Homo sapiens: one gene and its partners. The protein of the gene in region 1 interacts with the protein of each later gene in a pairwise test. Each region holds a gene or a part of one and is shown on either strand. Other genes may lie near its edges. The genes, in order: ABHD16A, SLC10A1, TMEM237, GDAP1, SLC7A8, STMN4 and VMA21.

Region 1 (3,500 bases):
GTAAAACCCCGTCTCTACCAAAAATACAAAAATTAGCTGGGCATGGTGGCACGTGCCTGTAATCCCAGCTACTTAGGAGGCTGAGGCAGGAGAATAGCTTGAACCTGGGAGGCAAAGGTTGCAGTGAGACGAGATTGCGCTACTGCACTCCATCCTGGGCAACAGAGCAAGACTCCGTCTCAAAAAAAAAAAAAAGTTCCATGCAATAGCCATGCAAGAGAACACTATATAGCAATGCAAATGAACAAACTGTAGCTACGCTCAACAACGCAGATGAAGCCAGGTGCAGTGGCTCATGCCTGTAATCCTAGCAGTTTGGTAGGCTGAAGCAGGCAGATCACCAGAGGTCAGGAGTTCAAGACCAGTCTGTCCAACATGGTGAAACCCCGTCTCTACTAAACATACAAAAAAAAATTAGCCAGGTATGGTGGTGAGCACCTGTAATCCCAGCTATTCGGGAGGCTGAGGCAGTAGAATTGCTTGAATCCAAGAGGCAGAGGTTGCAGTGAGCCAAGATTGCGCTACTGTACTGCATCCTGGGCAACAGAGCAAGGCTCCATCTCAGAAAAAATAAAATACAAAAAATTAACTGGGCATGGTGGCACATGCCTATAGTCTTAACTGCTTGGGAGGCTAAGGCATGAGAACTGCTTGAACCTGGGAGGCAGAGGTTGCAGTGAGCCAAGATAGCACCACTGCACTCCAGTCTGGGTGACAGAGCGAGACTCTGTCTCCAGATAAACAAAAGCAATGCAGATGAATTTCTCAAATGTTGTGTTAAATAGAAGAAGCTAACCACAAAATAATGTATGCAGTATGTTTTCATTTATATAAAATTCAAAAGGGATGTGCATGTTTGAGGTAGAACACCGAAGACAACAAGGGCATGGTTTTCTTTTTTTTTTTTTTTTTTTTTGAGACGGAGTCTCGCTCTGTCCCCCAGGCTGGAGTGCAGTGGCGCGATCTCGGCTCACTGCAAGCTCCGCCTCCCGGGTTCACGCCATTCTCCTGCTTCAGCCTCCCGAGTAGCTGGGACTACAGGCGCCCACCACCACACCCGGCTAGGTTTTTTTGTATTTTTTAGTAGAGATGGGGTTTCACCGTGTTAGCCAGGATGGTCTCAATCTCCTGACCTCGTGATCCACCCGCCTCGGCCTCCCAAAGTGCTGAGATTACAGGCTTGAGCCACCGCGCCCAGCAAGGGCATGGTTTTCTCAAAAGTTAGGAGAGTGATTACCTGGGGTGGGGGAGAACAGAGTGGGGGAGAGCCCTGCTGAGAGGTGGCTGTGTTCTCTTTGTTGACCTAGGTGATAGTCACATGAATGTTTGCTTTGTATTTTTTAAACTGAATATATGTTTTATGTACATATGTTGTATCTCGCAATTTAAAAAAATAAAGAGGACAGATCACCTACCCCTAGTGGGTACATAAGATGACAACCAGGTGATGGGCGATGCTTCAACATGGGGGTGGTGGGGTCAGGGCTGGATGGTCGCAGTTGGGTCCAGGACCTTCTGCCTGAGGTGTTCTGCCCCCTGATCTCTGCAGGGCTGGGCTCTCTCCTCAGAGAGGCCTTCCCTGACCACCCTGTCTAAAAGTAGCTCCCACTGCTCAGTTTTGTCTTAGTTTTTTATTTTATTTATTTTTAATTTAGAAAAAATACAGAAAAAATTAGCTGTGCATGGTGGCGGGCGCTTGTAATCCCAGCTATTTGGGAGGCTGTGGCAGGAGAATCACTTGAACCCGGGAGGCGGAGGTTGCAGTGAGCCGAGAGCACATCATTGCACTCCCGCCTGGGCAACAAGAGCAAAACTGTCTCAAAAAAAAGAAAAAAGAAAAAATACAGAAAAGTCCAGAGAACAAAATATAAAAGCCTTTTTAAATTTTTTGATGTATAGTTTTGTGATTTTTTTTTTATATATAGTTTTGTGATATTTGCTTTAAATGCTTTCTGTCAACAAAATACTAAAGCACCACAGTTAGGGTTGGAGTTCCCATTGGAATCCTTTCAGTCCCATCTTCCTCTTTCCTCAGAAGTAATAATTGTCATTTGGTGTGGGTTTTTTTTTTTTCTGGCACATACTTTTATGAAACATATACCTCAGTTCCTCAAGTCTAAGCTGCCATCAATTGTAAAATGAATTCTAATTTCAGAGTTTTCAAGGGTTAAAAAATATACATTTTAGAATCTATGAAATATGGTATCTATAAGCAGTATGTATTATTTTGCACATTTTACATTTTTGGCATAAATGTTGTACAAATCATTCTGCAGCACACATCATTCTCTCATCATATCGTTTTGGGGGAATACCATTGATGACACATAAAGTTCTGGTTCATTCTTGTTGTATTTTCTCTGTAGCACTTATCCCTCTCTGAAATGTTGTTTATTGTCTTCTCCTGGCTGTACCTAACCCCAACCAGAATGCCAGCTCTCTGAGAGCCAGGAGCTGTGTATCTCATTTCCTGCTGAGTCTCCCGTGTGTAGTACGGTGCCTGTCTGACACACGACACCTGCCAAGTCAGTGAGGAGAGAAGTTAGGGTTTGAGGTGGCTCAGCAGTGAAAGGAGAGTGGATGCAATCACTGACTGTGTAAGTGAAAAGAGAGAGGAGAGAGAGTCAGCACTGAGAGTTGCTTCTGCTTCAGAAAGGAAAGCAGAAAGGAGGCAGGAGAGGAACTGTTCAGGAACTGGAAGGAGTCAAGGATGGGCCCAGGAAGCAGAGGCAGGAAGAATCTTGAGGGACAGGGAGAATGCTGAGTAGTACAGTTGAAGAGAATGAGGATAGAAGAGTCAGGAATTCAGTGAGGAAGTAATTATGGGCAGGAGTCGGAGACTCTGAAGCCAGATGGCAAGGGGCTAGAATATACAGAAAAGAGGCAGAAAGCAAACATTGGAGAAGAATGGCAGTGAAAAATAGAGAAATTTGATATTCGCAAGGGAGAATAGTATTATATGATAGTGTTTAATAGTGTCATTTAATAGGTTATATGACAGTGTTTAAAGACTGAGGAAGAGGAACATTCTGGAAGATGGTAGGTTAAGGATTGTCTATAAAGACACAAACTGCAGAAGCTAGGGAGAAGAAGCGTCCTGTAGCCAGTTGCTGGATTTGGAGGAAGGGGGTTGGCTCACATCTATTTCTCCGCATCCTATGCCCTCAGTTCCTTTTTCTTTCACTTTTTCTTACAGGGCCTTCTTCTAGCCCATCTCCAATTCTTTTCCTAAAACCTAGGCTTTCTGCTTCCCAGTTTTCCTAGCACTGTTTCCTGTCCTTTTTCTACCAGGCATTGGCCGCTGGACCAACCCCCAGTACCGGCAGTTCATCACCATCTTGGAAGCAACACATCGGAACCAGTCTTCAGAAAACAAGGTGAGAGGCCCTAGGAAAAGTGCCACACAGGCACCCAATAGCAGCTTTCTCAGTTGTCCCTCAGAGCACCAGACACTGGCTTCTGCAGGAAGAGGAGGTGTGTTTTACCACCCACCACACTGG
Region 2 (3,500 bases), on another chromosome or scaffold:
CTACTTGTCCAATTTCCTTTTCCATTTGGAATCTTATATATGTTAGTCCCAGGACCCTGTCTAGGGAGAGGCCCTCCAGAAAGGTCAACTGAGAAGGAAGCTGATAGGGCATCTCCTTAGATTTATGGACATTTACATTAACAATATATGGCTCTGACTTTTATTCCAGTGGGAAGATGGTTGGGAGGTGAGGGCTTGGCAAGATCTTAGGAAAACCACACTCAGTGTGTCCCTCCTCCTCCCCACAGCCCTACCCTCCATCTACACTTCTTTCATTATTTCTATAAAGATGGAATATGGCTTAAATATGCATGAAGAGCAGCCTATATCAAAGGTTCCAGAGCGTAGCCATCAAGAACAATAGGTAGGCATGTCATAAGGATAAGAGCTGTTAGAGGTGAGAAGAGTCCCTCAAAGAAAATTGTGAACTAGGTAATAGGAACTCCCCCACCCCCGTGAACACTTAAATACACACTTGAGCTTGTAAGAAATTAACACTCAATTTAAGTGTGGCATAGTGGCTCATGCCTATAATTCCAGCATTTAGGGAGGCCGAGGAGGGAGGATTGCTTGAAGCCAGGAGTTTGAGACCAGCCTGGGCAACAAAGTAAGACCCCTGTCTCTACACACAAACAAATGAACAAACAAACCAAAAACCACACACAAAAATTAGCCAGGTGTGGTGGTGTGCACCAGGAGTCCCAGCTACTTGGGAGGCTGAGGCAGGAGGATGGCTTGAGCCCAGAAGGTTGAGGTTACAGTGAGCTATGTTAGCGCCACTCCACTAAAAAAAAAGGTGCCCACGGACAAGAAACAAATGCAAAGTAGTGGGGGAACTCAAGCTGAAGCTTCATAGAGGGGTTCTGGAGGGGAGTGGGGTGTTAGTCTTGGCACTGTGGAGGCTTTAATGCCCAAGGAAGGGACCAGAATTGAGGTATTAGACCTGGGATGGGAGGAGCATTGAAACTGAGCAACCAATAAAAGGATCATGGGATGAGGGGAGGGGAACTTTCTAATTATATCATCAAATATGAAATCATGGTGGAAACAGTATTTAGAATATAAAAATAATAAAATACATATTTAAAAAACATGGAGAGGGGACTTTGGATTAGGCAATGGTTTCTTAGACATCTAAAGCACGAACAGCCAAAGAAAAAGGCAAGTCAGACTTCATTAATATTAAAAACTTGTGATTCAAAGGACACCATCAAGAAAGTGAAAAGCCAACAAGAGAATGGGAGGAAATATTTGCAAGTCATATATCTGATAAGGGTCTAATATTCAGAATATATATGAAGAACTCTTTTTTTTTTTTTTTGAGATGGAGTCTTGCTCTGTCGCCCAGGCTGGAGTGCAGTGGCGCAGTCTCGGCTCACTGCAAGCTCCGCCTCCTGGGTTCACGCTATTCTTCTGTCTCAGCCTCCCGAGTAGCTGGGACTACAGGCGCCTGCCACCACGCCCGGCTAATTTTTTTTGTATTTTTAGTAGAGATGGGGTTTCACCGTGTTAGCCAGGATAGTCTCGATCTCCTGACCTCGTGATCCACCCGCCTGGGCCTCCCAAAGTGCTGGGATTACAGGCGTGAGCCACCGCGCCCGGCCAATATATGAAGAACTCTTATAATGCAATAATAAAAAACAAGTAAAAAATGGGCCAAGGATTTGAATGAGATATTTTCCCAAAGAAGATATACAAATGGCTAATGAGCACATGAAAAGATGCTCAACATCATTACTTATTAGGAAAATGCAAATCAAAACCACTTTGAGATACCACTTTATATCTACTAGCATGGCTATAATTAAAAAGCTGGACAATAACAAGTGTTGGAGGGTATATGGAAAATTAGGAATCCTCATACACTGGTGGTGGGAAGTAAAATGGTGCTTTGGAAAATAGTTTGGCAGTTTCTAGAAAATTTAAACACAGAGTCACCATATAACCCAGCAATTCTACTCTTAGGTATATATCCCAAGGGAACAGAAAGCATGTTCACACAAAAACTTGCCTGTGAGCTTCCATAGACATTATTCATACTAGGGAACAAGTAGAAACAACCCATGTGTCCATCAGCTGAATGAATGGATGAGCAAAATGTATTATATCCATACAATGGGATATTATTCAATTACAAAAACAAATGAAGTATTGTGACATGCTATCACATGAATGAACCTTGAAAATATGCTAAGTGAAAGAAGTATAGATACAAAAGGTCACATATTGAATGCTTCCATTTATGTGAAATCCATAGAGACAGAAAGATTAGTGGTTGTCAAGGGTTGGAGCAGGAGAGAGAAATGGGGACTCCTGCTAAATGGGATGGAGTTCCTTTTTGGGGTATTGAAAATGTTCTGAAATTAGATAATGGTGATAGGTTCACAGGCTTGGAATTATGCTAAAAACCAAGGCATCGTACAATTTAAAGAATGGATTTTATGGTATGTGAATTATATCTCAATAAATAGTAATTAAAAACCATGCAGGGAGCAAATAAAGCAATTATTAAAGGGCAATTTATAGCCTAACATATTTATATTGAAAAAGAAGATTAAAAATTAATGAGTTAAGCACCTTAAGAGGTTAGAATGAGAAAAACCCAATAAAAAGAAAAGGAAGAAATTTTTTAAGTTTTGTAAATTGTTAGAATCAGTAAAACCAAAAATAGGGTTTTTTTTTTTTCTTTTTTTTTTTAAAGGCCAATTAAATAGGCACCTCTGGCAAGGCAGACCAGGGAAAAGAGAGATGGCACAAATTGATGAGGTTAGTGTGAAAAAGGGAACATAACTACAGAGAAAATGAAGATTTTAAAAAGTCATTAAGGACATTTTCATACTTTCATTTTTAACTTAAATGGACAATTTCATGGGAAATATAACCTACAAAACCAAGTCAATATGAAGCCGAAAACCTGATTCAACTTAGAATCATTTAAGACATTTAATAAGCAGTTCAAAACCTATCTTCTAGAACCCTACATGATTTATACTGTCTTACGGTAGTGTTCTACTAAACATGCAAAGTGCAGATTGTTGCAATATTATGCAAATCTGTCCAGATAATATAAAAAGGGGAAACATGCCCTAATTTATTGTATAAAGTTAATATGATCTTGGAACGAAAGCTGGAGAATGATATTACGAGAAAAGAAAATTGGGGACCACTCTTATTTATGAACATAGAAACAAAAATAATAAAATATTAGCAAATAAGTGTTTTAAAAAATACAATGAACAAGATGAGTAAGAATGATTTAACATTAGATAATCTATTAATACATATTACTATATTATTAAAGAAATGGTACAATTTTGTAGCTATAGAAAAGTCAACAAAATTTAATGTTCTTACATAATAAAAATTTAGTACACTAGCAACGGAATGAAAATTCCTTAACTTGAAAGGAAATCTATTAGAAAAAGTATATTAAACGTTAAACTTAATGGTAAATAGAGGGATTTTCTTTAACAAGAGGAATAAAGCAAAGATAGTCATTA
Region 3 (3,500 bases), on another chromosome or scaffold:
ATACAAGTCTTGTACATTACTTTTCTTTTTATGTTTTAGTTATTTGAAAAGTTAAATTTATTTTGTTTTCAGAATTGGAGACTTCCTCCACCCAAAAGAAGTCATCTAGTTCATCTTTATTACGAAATGAAAATGGTATTGATGCGGAGCCAGCTGAGGAGGCAGTTATTCAAAAACCTCGGAGGAAGACAAAGTAGGAATTTATTTATTCTTCTAACTATTCTCCAGGATTACCCTGATGCTTTGTTTGGAGCTCCGAAGCAGTAGCTTCTCATTAAGTCTTATTACATACTTGTATTTGTGTACCTCTAGGATAAGTATTATTACAAAAAATCAGTTAAACCAATCGAATGATAAATTTCAGAAGAGTAAACCACTGAGAAAATAAAAAAAATTAAGATTGTACTTAAATAAAAAAACTTAAGAGCCATCTCTAAAAAAGAAGAACACAAATAGAATATATAAGTAGCAAAATTAAACATTAAGGATATTTAAAAATTAAAGATAATGAAATAGGCTATTGTGATTTATTTTCTTATGTTAACAGAATTCAAATTATGATTATTTTAGGAATAAGTAAAACTGGGTTTTAGCATTAAGATAAAATGAGTAGTGTACTTTAAAGAAATAACACTGGAAGTCATATATATAGCACTATTATTTGTATTTGAAAATGAACCTACAAATAGTGATCAATGTCTGTGTTAGTCCGTTCTCACACTACTAATAAAGACATACCCGAGACTGGATAATTTATAAAGGAAAGAGGTTTAATTGACTCACAGTTCAGCATGACTTGGGGGTGCCTCAGGAAACTTACTATCATGGTGGAAGGTGAAGCAAACACACCCTTCTTCACAGGGCAGCAGGAAGGAGAAGAATTAGAGCTGAGTGAAGGGGGAAGCCCCTTACAAAACGATCAGATCTCCTGAGAACTCACTATCACCAGAACAGTCCCTTGACAGGTGGGGATTATTACAATTCAAGATGAGATTTTGGGTGGGGACATAGCCAAACCTTATCAGTATCTATACAGAATCATACAGTTTTAAATTTGGAAAGAAGCTTACAGATCTAGTTCAGTCACTTCAATTTTCAAATGAGAAAACTGAAGCCCTCAGAAATGTAAGTAACTTGCTGCACATAATAGTTAATAACCGATTTATTTGAGTAAAAACCACATTTCTTAACTCCAAGTCCAGGGCCCTTTCCATTATATTTATAGCTAGTTCCTTATGTAAGTCTGTAAAAAATTCAATAATCATCTATTTTTCATACATACGTCCTTATTACAGGAAAACCCAGCCAGCAGAATTACAGTATGCCAATGAGCTAGGAGTAGAAGATGAAGACATAATCACTGATGAGCAAACTACTGTGGAACAGCAGTCTGTATTCACTGCACCCACTGGCATTAGCCAGCCTGTAGGCAAAGTATTTGTGGAAAAAAGCCGTAAGTAGATGCCTTGTTTTAGAATATGAACTCTTTAAAAATTGTCCAAGGATATCCTTTATACTTCTGGAAATCTGAATTAAGGAATTAAGCAAAACTGTGTACAACAATTTATACACAAAACTGGTCATCATGCTATGATTCATGAGAGTGAAAAACTGGAAACAACCTAAATGTGAAATAGGAGAGGAATAATGTCAGTAAGTTGTGGTGTATCTATATAATAATGTTCTTCACCATTAAACATAATGTTTAGGGAGAATTTTTCATTTTATGGAAAGATTCTGATAAAAAATGAGCATATACACATGTGCACACACACACACACAGTTTGATCTATGCATAGGACAAAAGACTTGAAGGAAATAGGCTCAAATATTAATGCTGGTTGTTTCTGGATTTATGGGGTTATGGGCAATGTAAAGATCTTCCCCACCCCTGCCTGATTCTTTATTCTTTCTTGTACTTTACCAGTTTGCTGCAATTGGTAGTAGTTGTGGTGGGACAGATAATAATATAAATTCTACAATTGACAATAAGAGAAAATACATGATGATACTACCATATTAAATAAGAAATACAACATTATAGCTGTATATTCTTTTGCAAGATAGTTGTGACATTGTATAATGTATACTAGGTTTGCAGTGTATTTTAGCTCAGGCTGCTATAACAAAATACCACCGACTAAGTGGCTTAAACCACGGACATTTATTTCTCATAGTTCCTAAAGCTAGGAAGTGCAAGACAAGGTTCCAGCAGATTAGGTTACTGGAGAAGGCCCCTTCCTGGCTTGCCGACAGCTGCCACTGTGTCGTCATGTGGCAGAGAGAGCTCTGGTGTGTCTTCTTCTTCTTAAAAGGATTATAATCTCATCATGGGAGCTTTATCCTCATGACTTCATCGAAATCTAATTACCTCCCAGTGACCTCGCACTCACTGGGGGGTTAGGGCTTCAACATATGAATTTTTGGGGGACGCATTCCGTCTATAACACAGTGTTTAAGAAAAACCTACTCAAAGCATGATCATGACTATATACTACCATGGATATGTTAAGCATATGCTGCCTAAAGAACTCATCTGAAACATAAAGGTTAGTCCTTAAAATTTACAATTTAGATTTTGTGTACCTTGTTTTAGAACCCTACTTCAGAAGATCCCATTTAAGGGATCTTGCAGTTCTTGGCCAATAAGAAACCTGTGGTCTAGAGAGGCTGACTTACCCAGTGTCTCACAGTTTGGTTAGGGTGGAACTGGGACTTGAACTGTGGTTTTATGACTTCTAGTCACATGGTTTTATTCATCTACCACGTGGTCATTTAAATTACCGCAGTTCTTTTTCAAGCAGTATCACTTAATCCTCATTTTTATTCTTGCTTCACTTAGCATAGAAATTTCCCTGCTAGAGTAACTGGCCATAAAAGGTACCAGTGGTTCTATTGTCTGCCCAGAAGTTGTCTTTTCTTAGGGAAAATTGTCACACCCCTGTCTTTCATCCTCCAAAACACCTGCGAACTGGGTTTGGTGAGGATAATTGAAATGGAACCTTTCCTGTTTCCTGAGGTCTATTTGTGGATTACTAGATATACAAGAAGGAGCCTCTGAATCAACAGTAAAAAGGCTAAAGCCCTGCTCATACAATATTGCAGTGCTGACTTTTGAACTGATGTTCTTCACAGGAATGTTCTAAAGAGAAATTTATGAAGCAGCCTATTTCTTTCCTGTCATCCCAGAAAGCCATGCTACACATCCTGACATCTTTTCCTAAGAAATTTAAAGTAGTTTTCAAATATTGACTTACCTTGATAGTATAGGCATATAAACTTTAATACTTCTAAAGTCTCTAAATTAGAATTTTGTAGACTAGGTCATGTTAAAGATTTCTAGACTTTATTCTGAGTTGAAAGTTCATTTTTTTTTATTAAATATAATTGATTTCTGAAATTGTTACTTCACTTTGGATTGAGAAGAAAATACACTGACATCGCTTATTTTTCTTCAAGATGAAAAATTATGTTTAAGGAACCCCAAGAAAAGATCCTTC
Region 4 (3,500 bases), on another chromosome or scaffold:
CGGGGTTTCACCATGTTGGCCGGGATGGTCTCTCGATCTCCTGACCTCGTGATCTGCCTGCCTTGGCCTCCCAAAGTGCTGGGATTACAGGCATGAGCCACCGTGCCCAGCCTATTATTGAATTTTTTAAAAATAGCCTAGTGTGTGACTAGTTGAAGGGTACAATATTATTCAGCTGTATTATGCATATTATATACTGATGCAATCACTATACAGTCTAAGTAAAATAAACAGCAAAGGGCTAGAGTGAGGAATGAAATCTAATCTGTTTCCATTGAGCTAGTAGTAAGGGAGACTTGAAAGTTGTACAAGTAGACCTAGGGGAGTCTTTCTTGAAAACAAGGCATAATAATGCCTCCTTTATCTGCCTTTACTAGGAAAGATGGGTAACCAGAGTAGTGAATTTTGTAAAATAATGAAAACTTATGCCTTTAAGCCCCTAATTTCTTTTTATGTTTTACTCTTGGGAAAACCAAATGTAATTTAAAAAAATGGCTCAGAGCCATTGTTATTTTACTCAGCATTACAGGGACTTGAGAATGTAGAGGCCCATTTGTCTCCATTACATGGCTGCAGAATGCTTTTATTGTTTCTTTCTGATTTTATTTTTTGCTTCTTTTGGTTTCCTCTGCTGTTTATCAAATCTTTCTGCTTTATGTCTATCTGCTGGTTTATAATTTGCTGCCTAAATTTATGTGTAATATAAAACTTTTCCCCTACTCAGTTCTTCCGGCAAGTCGGATCTTGTGCCAACTTATTTGTTCTTCTAGCTTAATACCAAGCCTCATTTCCACTGTTGCAATCCCACTCCCCAATGCTGGGACCTCCTCTCATTGCCTGCTTCTTAAAACTCCCTAATTCTCTGTCCTGCCCCGCTATGCCTTATGTTGCTTTCCCACTCCTGATTGAGGTACATTACTGAGAAAAAAATTCTTGCTTTTGGTATTTTGATAAAGGTACTCTACGGAAGAACTGGAAAATAAAATAGGATGGGATTGAGAGGGAAGATCTCCTCTATAATTCAAAGGAAATTCCCAGTTTTCCTTTGAAAAACTCTTTTATCAGAAGCAGCAGATACTGTTGTGCTTCAGTGTGAGGATGGCAGCGCAGTGCCCCTGTGATACTGGAGAGGGCATGCTTGATGCGCACAAAGAAAGAGAGATGGGGAGATAACTTGGGTTCAGTGGGTATCTCATGCTCTGACAGAGTGCTTCAGGAAATGGTTAGACAGTAACGGCACACTGAGTAGAAGAAAATTATTTTCATGGATTTAAACATTTGTCCTCCTTGAAGAATTTGGGCTTGGCCTGATGGATCTTCCCCAGAAAGCAATTAGACATTGTTTTTCCTGCTCTCATTCACTTTCCTAGGAAGGAAATGGTATGCTCTTCTGGAGAGAAGCCCCAGGGCCCAGTACCAGAAAGCAGCCAGAGCCACTAGCCATTACTTGGACCTTTTGGGAAGCATTTGAAAATGTACTATTTAGGGTTATTAGCCTGAGGTTCTTGGACCCCTAAAGCATTAGTTCTTAAACTTTTTGGTCTCTATACCCCTTTGTCTTTGAGGATACCAGAGAGCATTTGTTTATGTGGATCATAGCTATCAATATTTACCATTTAGAAAGCAAAACTGAGAAAACTTAAAATATTAGCCTGGTTAAGCACAATCCCACTAGCTGTCAGAGTGATAGAGTCATGTTTCCTGTAGCCTCTGGAAACTTCTACTGTACACTTGAGAGAGAATAAGAGTGAAAAAGTAATTAACGTCTTAGTATTTCTATAAAAATATCTTTGTAGATCCCCCAAACATGTTTTAGGAAAACCCAGGGATCCTCAGACCATAGTGTGAGAACTGTTGCGCTTAGGGGTTTATGAATAGAATTCAGGAGATTTGAGATCTTGGATAGGGAATAATTGTATCTCTATTTAAAGGAATTATTTCCTTCCATTAGCAATGTAGGCACAATCCATGGCAATATCAGGAGTGCTTCTGGCTTTGATAACCAATAGAACTCACAGATATGTTCATGGTTAAGTTATTGCAGATATCTTAATATTTTGAAATTGTGATAGTTATTAGACCTGACATTTTTTAGGGACAGTTTGACAGCCAGAGATAGGAAGAGATTCTGAAGGGACATAGCCCTGACCTTTGGGTTGCATCCTTCACTTTTATTCTTTTTCGATAGTCTATGAAATGAAAATCCTTTGAAAATGTTATGATGGTATAATCAAAGAGAACATTACATTAGGAATCAGATGACTTTAGTTCTAGCTCTGCCTCTAATTAGCTGTGGGATCTTGGGAGAAATTTTCAGCCCTTGTATCTGAGTGTACATGTTAACTCCTGCAGCACTTCTCCAGCTCAAGTAATCTATATAATAATTGGAAATTTTGGAATGTATTCATTGTAATTTATTAAACACCTACTACATGTCAAACATTATACTAGGCACTGGGGATTTAACAGAGAGCAGTACATGGTCCCTGCCCTCAAGGACTCTACAGTTTGGATTTTAACTAGCAAATAAGGATGTATGTAGAACCCACTTTCCAGAGATAATTGTTAGAAATTCCTGGGGAAAGTGCACCTGCGATATTTGAGCAAAGGCCTTTCCTGTTCCATATAGATTGTCATTCACATTCACATGTGTCAGTAGGGTCACTCTTGATGTTGGTTGGCACCTAGAAAAGAGTAGCCCCTGATTATCTTTCCATAATGAGCCCTCATTCAATTAACCAAACTTTATTGAGGGCCTCAAGTGTGTGGAGAACTGTGCTAGACTCTGGATTGCAGGTTCCTTTCCCTGAAGACAGTCATGGGGAAAAAAGATGCAATGAATTACAGTGTGATAAGGGCTGTAACAGAGTGTGTGTAATGTGTTATGGATGTATAGAAGAAGGCACATGTGAGCCAGTCAGATGTTGGCAGTTGTAGGAGGTTAGGGAATGCTTCATGGAATAAATGGCATAAATAACTGGGCCTTGAGGGCTGAGTGCAGTTTGCAAGGTGAAGAAATGAGAGAATACCAATGTGATTATGGTTTGGGATCTTGTCTGGTGCATCAGGCCATTTCAAACTTTGAATGAATGTCTGAGGTGAGGAGACAGTGTTTTTTGAATATACAGATATGTTGAAAATGTTAATGATGAGTGGATAGTGTTTTTGTTTTGCTTTTGAGTGTAACAACTCATGTGTAACTTTTTCTTCAATATTTGTGTGTGTGTATTTTAGAAAGAACACCCAGGTTAATGCCTGATAAAGAAAGCATGTATTACCCACGGGTACAACATTACCGAGAGCTGCTTGACTCCTTGCCAATGGATGCCTATACACATGGCTGCATTTTACATCCTGAGTTAACTGTGGACTCCATGATCCCGGCTTATGCAACTACAAGGATTCGTAGTATGTAAACATTTTAAAGACCTGGAATTCTGTCTGACACTTTCTTTTAATTCATTTTGAGACCTAGCATGTCTCATGGTCACTAAAAGAAG
Region 5 (3,433 bases), on another chromosome or scaffold:
GTGTAGGCCACGTGGCCCCCAGGACTAGGGACTGGGGCATTCTCTCTCTTCTTCACCCACAGAGACACATCCTCAAGGGCAAAGGCTGGGCTTCCCTCGGCTCTGTGGTCCCACACTCACCCCTGGTAGGGCAGGGGCTATATAAACAAATGTTGATGAACATGGTCGGTCAGACAGGAAGAGGATGGGGAGGAGTTAGGGAGGAAACGATCCTCCTTGCCCATGTCCTCGCTCTTGGGTGTGGTTAGACAAGGCCTCATCATGCATGCCATGTGCCCGTGGCAGCCAGAGAAGCCCACAGGGATGGAGAAGCTTGCTGGCACATGGGTGTGTCTGCTGAGGTCCTAGGGTGGAGGGGAGGTGTGGCAATGCACAAGGTGCAGGCAGGAGACGATTCGAGTCACTCAGGCTCCCTGGTCCTTGCCCACTTCTGTGCAGGGCCCTTATGTGGGCACAATATGGCAAATGTCAGCTCCTTATGGGCCACATGTGGGGAGTTCCTGAGAGTATCCTCTTCAGGGCTCCAGGGGCAGTCCTGATTCGGCTGCCTTTCTCTTCCTTGTCTTCCTCGCTCAGAAGGGATGTGTGTGGTGGGGACATGGGGTTATTCTACCTCCTCTTCCCTCTAGCAGATTTTCTAAGTGTGAGAGTAGAAAATGGCGGTGGAAATGCCAGTGAGGAACTGAGAGATTTGGAGAGCCTTTGATTTTTCAGCTGGAAGGATCTTCTAGAAGCATCTAGTCACTGTTTCTAGAATAGGATTGTTCAAATAGCTCTGGAGTACACTCTATTCTTCTAATTCGTAGGAGAACTCATAATGCTCTAGCATGTCCTGTTCTGAGCAATCCCTTTAATTCCTATCACAGAGTTATATCTTGTAGCAATATTAGGTTCACTGAGCACCCTATATGTGTAGGACTGTGGGAGTTTATAAAGGGAGGATCATGGGAGGTTGCAGTAGACTGGAAGACTTCAAGAAAGAGGAGGTACTTGAGGCGCATTTGGAAAATGGTTAAAATGTAGATGGGCAGATGGGAGGAGGAAGTCATTCTGGGATGGAGACATAGCACATAGTGAACCCAGCTATCTGGAGGGACAAGGAGGAAGTGTTGGGGAGATAAGAGAACCTTGAAAAGTCAGCTGGAGTTTAAGGCTTAGACTGGTAGGAAACAAAGGAATGTCATGATGAAAGTCACATTTGATCTGACTTATTCCCCAGCTGCAGTCTGCTCCGATCTCATCCCCAGTGGAGAATGGAAATAGTGGTCCCATTCACAAATGGCCCTTGCTTTCCAAAGGGTCTGCTACCATCAGAGATGATGACGTGTGGTCAGCAGCTAAGAACAGAGGTGATTTAAAAATCTGAACTGCAGCTAGAACCATAGAGGAAGGGGAGGGGACCCCAAAGGGAGTTTCTCTCACCTTGATGGGGCGGGGGATATCAGGCTTCTTCCAGCGAAGGACTATCTGTCCAGCAACCGTGACCCCATAGAAGAGGTAGTTGATGAAGCCCACATAGTTGATGAGTGTGTACATGTCGCTGGTGACCAGCATCAGCAGGGTGGAGATGCACTGGGAAAGTGGGAGGAGCTCATCAGTGATCCGAAAGATATTCAGAGACTGGTATTACAGATTAGGGGCTGTCCCCCAGCCTCCAGGCAGATGATGCCATCGTATAATGGATGTCTCGAAATGGAGACTTTAGAACCTCCCCTAGTAACCCAATATGTTACAACATCTTTATTGCTAGGAAATCCTTTCTTATTACAGGGGTGATGATCAAAATATTTAACCACTCGTATGGCACGGGCACTAGCCAATTAGAATGGATACTGGACATAAGCAGCTAGACTGGCCACACTGGTATTACCTGGCTCTGTGTCAGCCCCGGTCTCATTTGTATGCCTCTGTTGGTTATAGCTCAAGCTAAATTCATTTTTTTAAAATCCCTTAGGGAAGATTGTTAACAACAGATTAAGGCTGTATTCCTGCCCTCATCCTTTTCTCCTGGCTGAGTCATCTATTTTTCTTCCTTCCTTTTCTTTATTAATTTCAAAACTGGTTACATAGCACTTACTGTGTGCCAGGTCTCTATGTTTAGCATTTGACAAAGATTAACTCACTTAACCCTCATAACATCCCTATGAGGTTTTCTTGACAGAGTCTACTTTCCAACTTCAAAATCATCTCTGTGGCTCTCTTGGAACCATGCTCCTCCCCTCTGATAACTTGTGAAGGTCAACAAAAGGTTCTGTTCTCTTGTGAGATCCGATGGTTAAAATAATCGAGAAGATTTTAATGGTTCTTGCTACATCTGCCTTTTAGTCACACTACTGCACCAATAGCTCTAACTGGAAAAAACAAAACAAAACAAAACAAAAAAATGTGTGTGGCCCACTGGGAGTACTGTCTTCTCCAGCCACCTTCGACAACCAACCAGTCAAGGTGACCTTCATCCTGCATCTGAACATTCTGAAATTGTACAGCAATGCTGTAAAATGCTCTTGGCTCCCAAGAGCTCTGTTATTCTGATTGCTAACTGCTTCACCAGTGGACCAAAGTCATTTTTAGTGTTTTATTCAGGATCCAGAAGGAAAATAAAAATAACTCAAAAGACTCAATGGGGACAAGTCTTTGTTCCTTCCTATAGCTCTCTCAAAATGATTCTACTCTGGGGATATTTTACTCCCATCTCTTTCCTGTCCCAAGTTTCCTTTGCACAGTTTCCAGTTTATCAGTCTTCCTCTATTATTTTTCGTATTTGGTGTACTGTTAACACTAACTTCATTTCAATGATGTTTCCCAAGAGACTGGCAGGCTGCCCTGAAGCTTGATGGGGGAAGTGGGTGTTTGCAGGGACCAACCAGCCAGGAGCAGAGGCCAGTGCTGCAACCCTGTGGTAACAGGTGCGAGGAGAGCCAAGGGAGATATATTTTTTTTGAGGCTGTAGAATCCTGAGACAGTCAGTTCAGTCTGACCCAAAAGGATGGGAGAACGGAAATAAGTCAGCCTGAGAGCCTTAGGTATTTCAAGACTCAGGATCTTTCCTTGCTATATCTCTTGATATTAACAAAGATGATGGGTATCATTTGCCAGATCCTCTAAGATCCAGTGAGACCTAGCAGCAGACTGCAAGGGTAACAGGGGTGTGTGTGAAAAGCATGAACTCCCAGCTTAGACTAGGCACAAAGAGAGGGAGGTGTGTGGAGAGTTACAGCAGGAAGGGCCCTTACTGTGAAGAGCAGGGCTGGGATTGGGGTGCAGCGCTTCACGTGGATCATGGCCAACACACTGGGAAGGTGGCCCTCTCGGGCTCCAGCGAAGAACAGCCTGTCAGGGAGAAAAGCAGGTCAGCCTGGGATAACCCAGGGACCACCAAGCCCCAGCTCCTTCATCCTTGCCTACCTTCTGCCCACACAGGGGCATCCCCACT
Region 6 (3,500 bases), on another chromosome or scaffold:
GCAGCACACCAGCATGGCACATGTATACATATGTAACTAACCTGCACAATGTGCACACGTACCCTAAAACTTAAAGTATAATAATAAAAAAAAAAAGAAAAAAAAAGATGGCAAAAAAGAAATTTTTTTTAAATGTAGATTCCCTTGCTTTTGTAAAAGCCCTGGTTTCTGGCTTATGTAAAAATAGTAGACAGAGGGGAAAAAACCTAGAAGAAAATGCCAATAGCATAAAGTAGCAAGACTACAAGGATTTATTTTCTTTTTTTCTGTTACATAGAATTTCCAAAATATAATGTGAATATGTTTGTAATTAAAGCATTATTTATAAGATGCACATATGCCTATAGATGTAATCATAAAGCAATATTCAATCACATTGTTGTTATTGGGAGTAAGATTAAAAGGGCTTGCCCTGTATATTGATGGCTTCATGTGCTTTTAACCCAGGACCTCACAGAACTCCTGGGTCACATGCCTTGCACACTCTCCAGCAGCCCAGAATGGAAGTCCATGCCCCTGAACTTGACTTCTGTGATGCTGATTCTTCTGCATATGTATATATATAATATATATACACGTATATACGTATATATATAATATTATATGTATATATATATACGTATATACGTGTATATATATATATTTATTTTTTGAGATGAAGTCTCACTCTTTCACCCAGGCTGAAGTGCAGTGGCATGATCTCAGCTCACTGCAACCTCCACTTCCTGTGTTCAAGTGATTCTCCTGCCACAGCCTCCCGAGTAGCTGGGACTGAGACTACAGGCATGCACCACCACGCTGGGCTAATTTTTGTATTTTTAGTAGAGATGGGGTTTCACCATGTTGGCCAGGCTGGTCTCGAACTCCTGACCTCATGATTTGCCTGCCTCAGCCTCCCAAAGTGTTGGGATTACAGGCATGAGCCATCGCACTCAGCCGCTTCTGCATATATTAAATTGGAAATAAAAATTGCCCAGAAAATCCCATCATTGTGGATTATTTGGGGCTGTCACTTTTCCAGTTTAATTTTCCTTCTCTGACTTGCCTCTTAACATAGCTGTTAGTGCTAAGAAGGACTCCTCAGATTCAGGCCTTCAGAGTTCTGCTTTTGTCATAGGTGCTTATTTCCTAGAAGCCTAAGCCTGTTGGGTACCCTCTGGGAGTTGCCCTTGTCCAGGTCCCCATCATCTCTTCCTCTAGATGCTGTTGGAAGCAAGAGCCTAAGAGGTGATTAAACAATGCCAGTTTCCCCAGACCCAGTGAATCACACACTGTTCTGTTTTGCCCAGTTTCCCTCTGTAGGTCTCGCTGGTTCCTTCTTGGTCTGCACTCTAATTCCCACTCCTTCTCCCTTTATGGCATGGTCCACATTATCGCGGAAGACCATGCTGAGGCCCGCAGAGCATCTGCAGAGCCTCCAAAGGCTCCAATGGCTCTAGATACCCATCCAGGGACCTGTTTTACTTTTCCACCAACAAAAACTCCTGTGGTTATTTTAGGATCTAGCAGAGGGCTTGGCACATAATTAAATACTCAGTAAATATTGTAGAAAGAATGAAAACCACATTTATGAAAAAATAATTTATCTCCTTTTGATTTTAAACCCAAAGAAGACACATGGCTGCCAATCAGAGCCTTTTGATCAGCATGAAATAACCAGGGCCACTGTTCTGAGCTGACATGATTCATCCCAAAGCAAATAAATGTGGCATTTAGATAGCTTATGCAGCTAATTTTGGGTAAATATATGACCTCAACTGGATTTTGAAGAAGATTGGCAATAGGGCACAGACTTAAAGAACCACCTTCCTGTACTGCTTGTGGTTAGAGGACCTCAGGCAGAATTCATTGCCCCCACAACCATGAGGTATTCATCCTGATTCTTGGCCAGAGTTTCTAGATTTGTCTTCCGAAACCCTTGCCAGGTACAACTCTGTTCAAGCCACTGGGACATGCATTATCTGCTCATCCCTCAAAAATAGTCCAGATGGAATTTGACACATCCTGCAAGCATTCTTGGGGCATTTCTTACAGTGACCAATAAAATGCTTGTTCATTCTGTCGTATGGGCAGTCAGAGGCACTAAGAGGTCAGGCATACACCCAGTAGGTGGCCACGTGTCATCTGAGAACTTGGTGCTTTTCTGTTTGCCCCCTGGACATCAGCTGAATTACGGAAAGCCTGGAAGTGTGGGTTGCATGAAAGTGCCCTGCTGGGGTCTCCCTTCTGTGTATCCATCTTCTCATTCAGAGCTGCTCTGGTGACCATGTGGGCTGTCCCCTCTCATCCAGGATGGTGTTTGGGGACAGAGAAGGAGCAAGTATAAAGGAGAAGGGCATTGACACTGGAATCCATCCAATCTCTGCCAGGAGTTCTCTGCGTGACCTCAGAATCTTTGGTCCCCAAGTAGGAGGCTATTGGCATTTTGGAAGGGACAGTTGTTTATCGTGTGGGACTGATGTATACAATGCAAGACATTTAGACTCGCCAGCCTCTGCCCACTAAATGCCTGTAGCATCCTCAGTTTCATGACCATTGAAAAGTCCCATGTAGTTCCCGGGAGTGAGACTGCACTGAGTCGAGAACCATGGGCTTGTGATTGCCTGTTCTCTCCATCTCTGACATTCAAATGTTCTGGGTGAAATCGAGGGCTCTGATCTCTTCACTTTAACCACCTTTTTCTCCCCACTGTCCCACCGTGAGATCCCTCCTCAGTCAACAGCCTACAACTTCACTCTCAGCCACGTCTGCCTCCAATCAAAACTTACTCATTCTGTGTTTCCTTACGGCTGGCTCTGTGCTTGGGGGGGGTTATCACCCACTAATTTATTTCTTAACAATTATGCTAATGGTTCAAGCCATCAACAAAAAGCTCTGGTTCCTTGCTTTTCTGTACAGACTCTTAGATGCTGGTGCTGGGGGAAATGTATGGATCAGTTTGTAAATGGAAAAATAGTGCTGGGTGAGATGTGAAAACTTCAGAGTGGAACTCAATCCAGCAGGTCCAACCCACACTTTGTACCCAGACTGCTATTTGGCTTCCAGCCTATCCCTCCTAATTTTTCCCCAAACGAATGTTGCCAGATGAATCTTTTTACACTCGCAGCAGAACCTAAAGACAGAGAGGCTTTCCAATGAAACACATGAGGACTCAAATCCCAGCTCTGCCCCTACCTACCTGTGTGACGACGGTATAACTTACTTAACTGCTGAGATTCAATGTCCTCATTCTCAAAGAACCTAATAGAAAAATGAGATAACAGCCGTGCTTTTCCTGCCCAAGAATGGTAGTTGTTATTATTGCTATTATTATCAGCATCACTGTTCTCTTCTCCCCTCATTCAAAAGATGTCAGTGGCTTCCTACTGGGTGGGAGATAAAGCACAAAGTCCTTCACTGGTCCAGAGGTCTCTGCAATTTTCCAGTTCCTATTCTAGCATTCTGTCCCACTGCACCCTGCATGCAGCCCAGTGGGCCTCCTGTGTTCCTGAGTAAACCCA
Region 7 (2,659 bases), on another chromosome or scaffold:
TTAAACCAGGGGCATATGCAAAGGCAGTTGTAATTTCCTCTTGGAAAAAGCGCCAAATGTTTGAAGGTTAAAATCAAATGCTAGGGTTGATATTTAGGCTTATAACAAAATAGGCTTGTTTTCAAAGCAGTTTTTTCCTAGAGTTTTAACTGTTAACTCACTAGTTTGCTGCTGTTTTTAACTATGTTAAATAACATATGGTATTTGGCAAATAGATTTATTTTTCAAAATGTCTCACTAGTTTCCTTTTACACAATGTATATACTTCAAGATGTATAGAAAGGAAAGCTACAGTTGAGCCCTTATACATGTTTTAAGGTAGAAATATGTTCCCTATTGTTTGAAAACTGATTGTAAGAATAACCTCAGTTAGGAGATATAACTTGAAGTGTCAGTCCAAACTACTGATTTAACCCTATTTACGGTAACACATTACCTTCCTCACCTCCTGTTTGGCCCTGGAGAATGTAGTCCTTTTTCTCATTTGTGTTGAGAAATGAAAAGTCTGCTGTAGAATGTATCTGATGTCATTAGTTCTTCAAATGGATACCATTGTACATATAACAGTAGAATTTGGTTTGGGGTTGTTAGTGAAAAAAAATTTAAACCTGCCATTAAAAATCCCCATGTTTCATGGAAATCTAACAGAAATACATTGTAATAATTAGAACATTTTGTTTTCTTTTTTCTTTTTTTTTTTTTCGAGACGGAGTTTTGCCCTTCTTGCCCAGGCTGGAGTGCAAGGGCGCAATCTCGGCTCGCTGCAACCTCCGCCTCCCGGGTTCAAGCAGTTCTCCTGCCTCAGCCCCCTGAGTACCTCAGATGACAGGTGCGTGCCACCACACCCGGCTAATTTTTGTATTTTTAGTAGAGACGGGGTTTCACCATGTTAGCCAGGCTAGTCTCGAACTCCTGACCTCAGGTGATCCACCCGCCTCCGCCTCCCAAAGTGCTGGGATTACAGGTATCAGCCACCGTGCCTGGCCTAATAATTGGAACATTTTCATCATGAAAATGTCATCAGCTTTGCCAAAAGAAACAACCAATTGACTTGTTTGGCGTTTGTTTTCCATTTTCATGTCAATTTTATGTATACAGTTAGAATACCCAAGGAGACCACTAAAATCAGTTAAACAAGTAGGGTATATACAAAGAAAGATGAAACCCGAAAGTACATAAAAAGGATTTAAATCCGATTTTAGATGTACCTAGTGTGTATTTCTTATCTCTAGACAAGTTCATGTTTATTGTTTAATTTATGCCCAAGTGAAGTTGTAAACTTATGGTTCAACTCTGACACAGAATTTGTCACTTGTCTGAGGTCAGTGGCAGGTTTCTCTGCTGTCAAGCACTCTGTGTCACCCACCAGATTAGTATAACTATTAATTCAGACTGTACTCCTATGTTTAAGATAATTTTTACAAGAGCTGGCTGAAGCAGCACATTAGTAACCTGACAAGATTTCTTTTTCCCTTTTCAGGGGGAAAGGGTCACCTTAAAAATAAATTATTTTCAGGGACTTTGGGAATCTAATGATAAATATTACACATAATCTATGAATAGCTTAATCCTTTATATATTCCTTAAAATAGGAATTCCTCGACATCACTCCTGGCCACACTTTCCTTGCCTGTGTTGTTGCTATGTGTATTTGAAAGTAATATCTGCATTCCTTTTAAGATGTTCTGTAAGTCATATTTGTCAGTTATACAGAGTAGTCTTCCTTTTCCCCACGTTCAGTGTAATCTCACTGAACAGTAATAATAGCAATAGCTAACAACATCTGCACAGCACCTTACAGTTTGCAAAGAACGTTCACACATTCTCATTTGAGTTTTGCATAGTGAACCTGTTACGAGATGTCTCTTGACGTCGATGCTAAAAGTGTTAGAATCTTTACATCACTAGAGTCATTGAATATGCTGTAGTATTGAATAGTGCCCTGACTAGGGGGAGGATTTGGATGTGCTGCATTTCAAGCCGTGTATAATCATCAAAATGGGGGGCTTGAGTTCTTTAGCTACTTGAATCCGATTTACTTCTGTTAAGTGATGCTTTTCTAACCGTTTTCTGGATGGATTTTGTATTCACTATATTGTAGCTTGTAATTTGTATAAATGTACCATCTGATGTCATTAAAAAAAGTGTTTGTAGTGCTACTTTGCTGTGTCCTGATTCAATTAATGTTTTATTAACCGCTGTGTTTTTAAAAATTTGTTTGCCTGCTTCTCATTTTATAACATGTAGAATATGTACAGAGCTCACTTTAAAAAATTTGTTCGTTGGCCTCTGTTTGTGCTATGTAGATTATATAGAGAGCTGTCAAGGATAAGTTTTTATGCAGTAAATGTCAACCAGAAATGCTCAAACTGATTGGGAGTGTGGGGGAGGGGTGTTGAGCTGTAAAGGGCTGGTTATACTTCGTCTGGGGTGGGCTTCAAATGCCCCTAAAGGAGAGTTGAGAAATGTGGAAATAGATAATTCCTGACGACGTCCACATGCCACCCCCTCATGACCAATGTCCTGTGTCCTCTGTCCTCTAATCACCCGTTGATTGCACTCCAGCTCCTTCCTGTGCTTCTGAGGACTCCAGCTAATTCTTACTAATAAATGTTAATATCCCCTTCCCAAACACATTTGAGACGTCTTAGTATTAACA

What was found.
Region 2: the proteins of ABHD16A (region 1) and SLC10A1 interact in binary tests that used the Homo sapiens proteins (3 or more experiments, as listed by UniProt).
Region 3: the proteins of ABHD16A (region 1) and TMEM237 interact in binary tests that used the Homo sapiens proteins (3 or more experiments, as listed by UniProt).
Region 4: the proteins of ABHD16A (region 1) and GDAP1 interact in binary tests that used the Homo sapiens proteins (3 or more experiments, as listed by UniProt).
Region 5: the proteins of ABHD16A (region 1) and SLC7A8 interact in binary tests that used the Homo sapiens proteins (3 or more experiments, as listed by UniProt).
Region 6: the proteins of ABHD16A (region 1) and STMN4 interact in binary tests that used the Homo sapiens proteins (3 or more experiments, as listed by UniProt).
Region 7: the proteins of ABHD16A (region 1) and VMA21 interact in binary tests that used the Homo sapiens proteins (3 or more experiments, as listed by UniProt).

The regions. Positions count from the first base shown.
Region 1 is NC_000006.12:31,696,825-31,700,324, reverse strand, and holds part of ABHD16A (phosphatidylserine lipase ABHD16A), read left to right. Parts: intron 1-3,291; coding exon 3,292-3,377; intron 3,378-3,500. UniProt on the Homo sapiens protein: Phosphatidylserine (PS) lipase that mediates the hydrolysis of phosphatidylserine to generate lysophosphatidylserine (LPS). LPS constitutes a class of signaling lipids that regulates immunological and neurological processes.
Region 2 is NC_000014.9:69,787,242-69,790,741, forward strand, and holds part of SLC10A1 (hepatic sodium/bile acid cotransporter), read right to left. Parts: intron 1-3,500. UniProt on the Homo sapiens protein: As a major transporter of conjugated bile salts from plasma into the hepatocyte, it plays a key role in the enterohepatic circulation of bile salts necessary for the solubilization and absorption of dietary fat and fat-soluble vitamins.
Region 3 is NC_000002.12:201,630,004-201,633,503, reverse strand, and holds part of TMEM237 (transmembrane protein 237), read left to right. Parts: intron 1-72; coding exon 73-193; intron 194-1,295; coding exon 1,296-1,453; intron 1,454-3,500. UniProt on the Homo sapiens protein: Component of the transition zone in primary cilia. Required for ciliogenesis.
Region 4 is NC_000008.11:74,356,903-74,360,402, forward strand, and holds part of GDAP1 (ganglioside-induced differentiation-associated protein 1), read left to right. Parts: intron 1-3,234; coding exon 3,235-3,408; intron 3,409-3,500. UniProt on the Homo sapiens protein: Regulates the mitochondrial network by promoting mitochondrial fission.
Region 5 is NC_000014.9:23,128,228-23,131,660, forward strand, and holds part of SLC7A8 (large neutral amino acids transporter small subunit 2), read right to left. Parts: intron 3,331-3,433; coding exon 3,234-3,330; intron 1,573-3,233; coding exon 1,423-1,572; intron 138-1,422; exon of another isoform or gene 1-137. UniProt on the Homo sapiens protein: Associates with SLC3A2 to form a functional heterodimeric complex that translocates small and large neutral amino acids with broad specificity and a stoichiometry of 1:1.
Region 6 is NC_000008.11:27,248,405-27,251,904, reverse strand, and holds part of STMN4 (stathmin-4), read left to right. Parts: intron 1-3,500. UniProt on the Homo sapiens protein: Exhibits microtubule-destabilizing activity.
Region 7 is NC_000023.11:151,407,206-151,409,864, forward strand, and holds the end of VMA21 (vacuolar ATPase assembly integral membrane protein VMA21), read left to right. Parts: 3' UTR 1-2,159; downstream 2,160-2,659. UniProt on the Homo sapiens protein: Required for the assembly of the V0 complex of the vacuolar ATPase (V-ATPase) in the endoplasmic reticulum.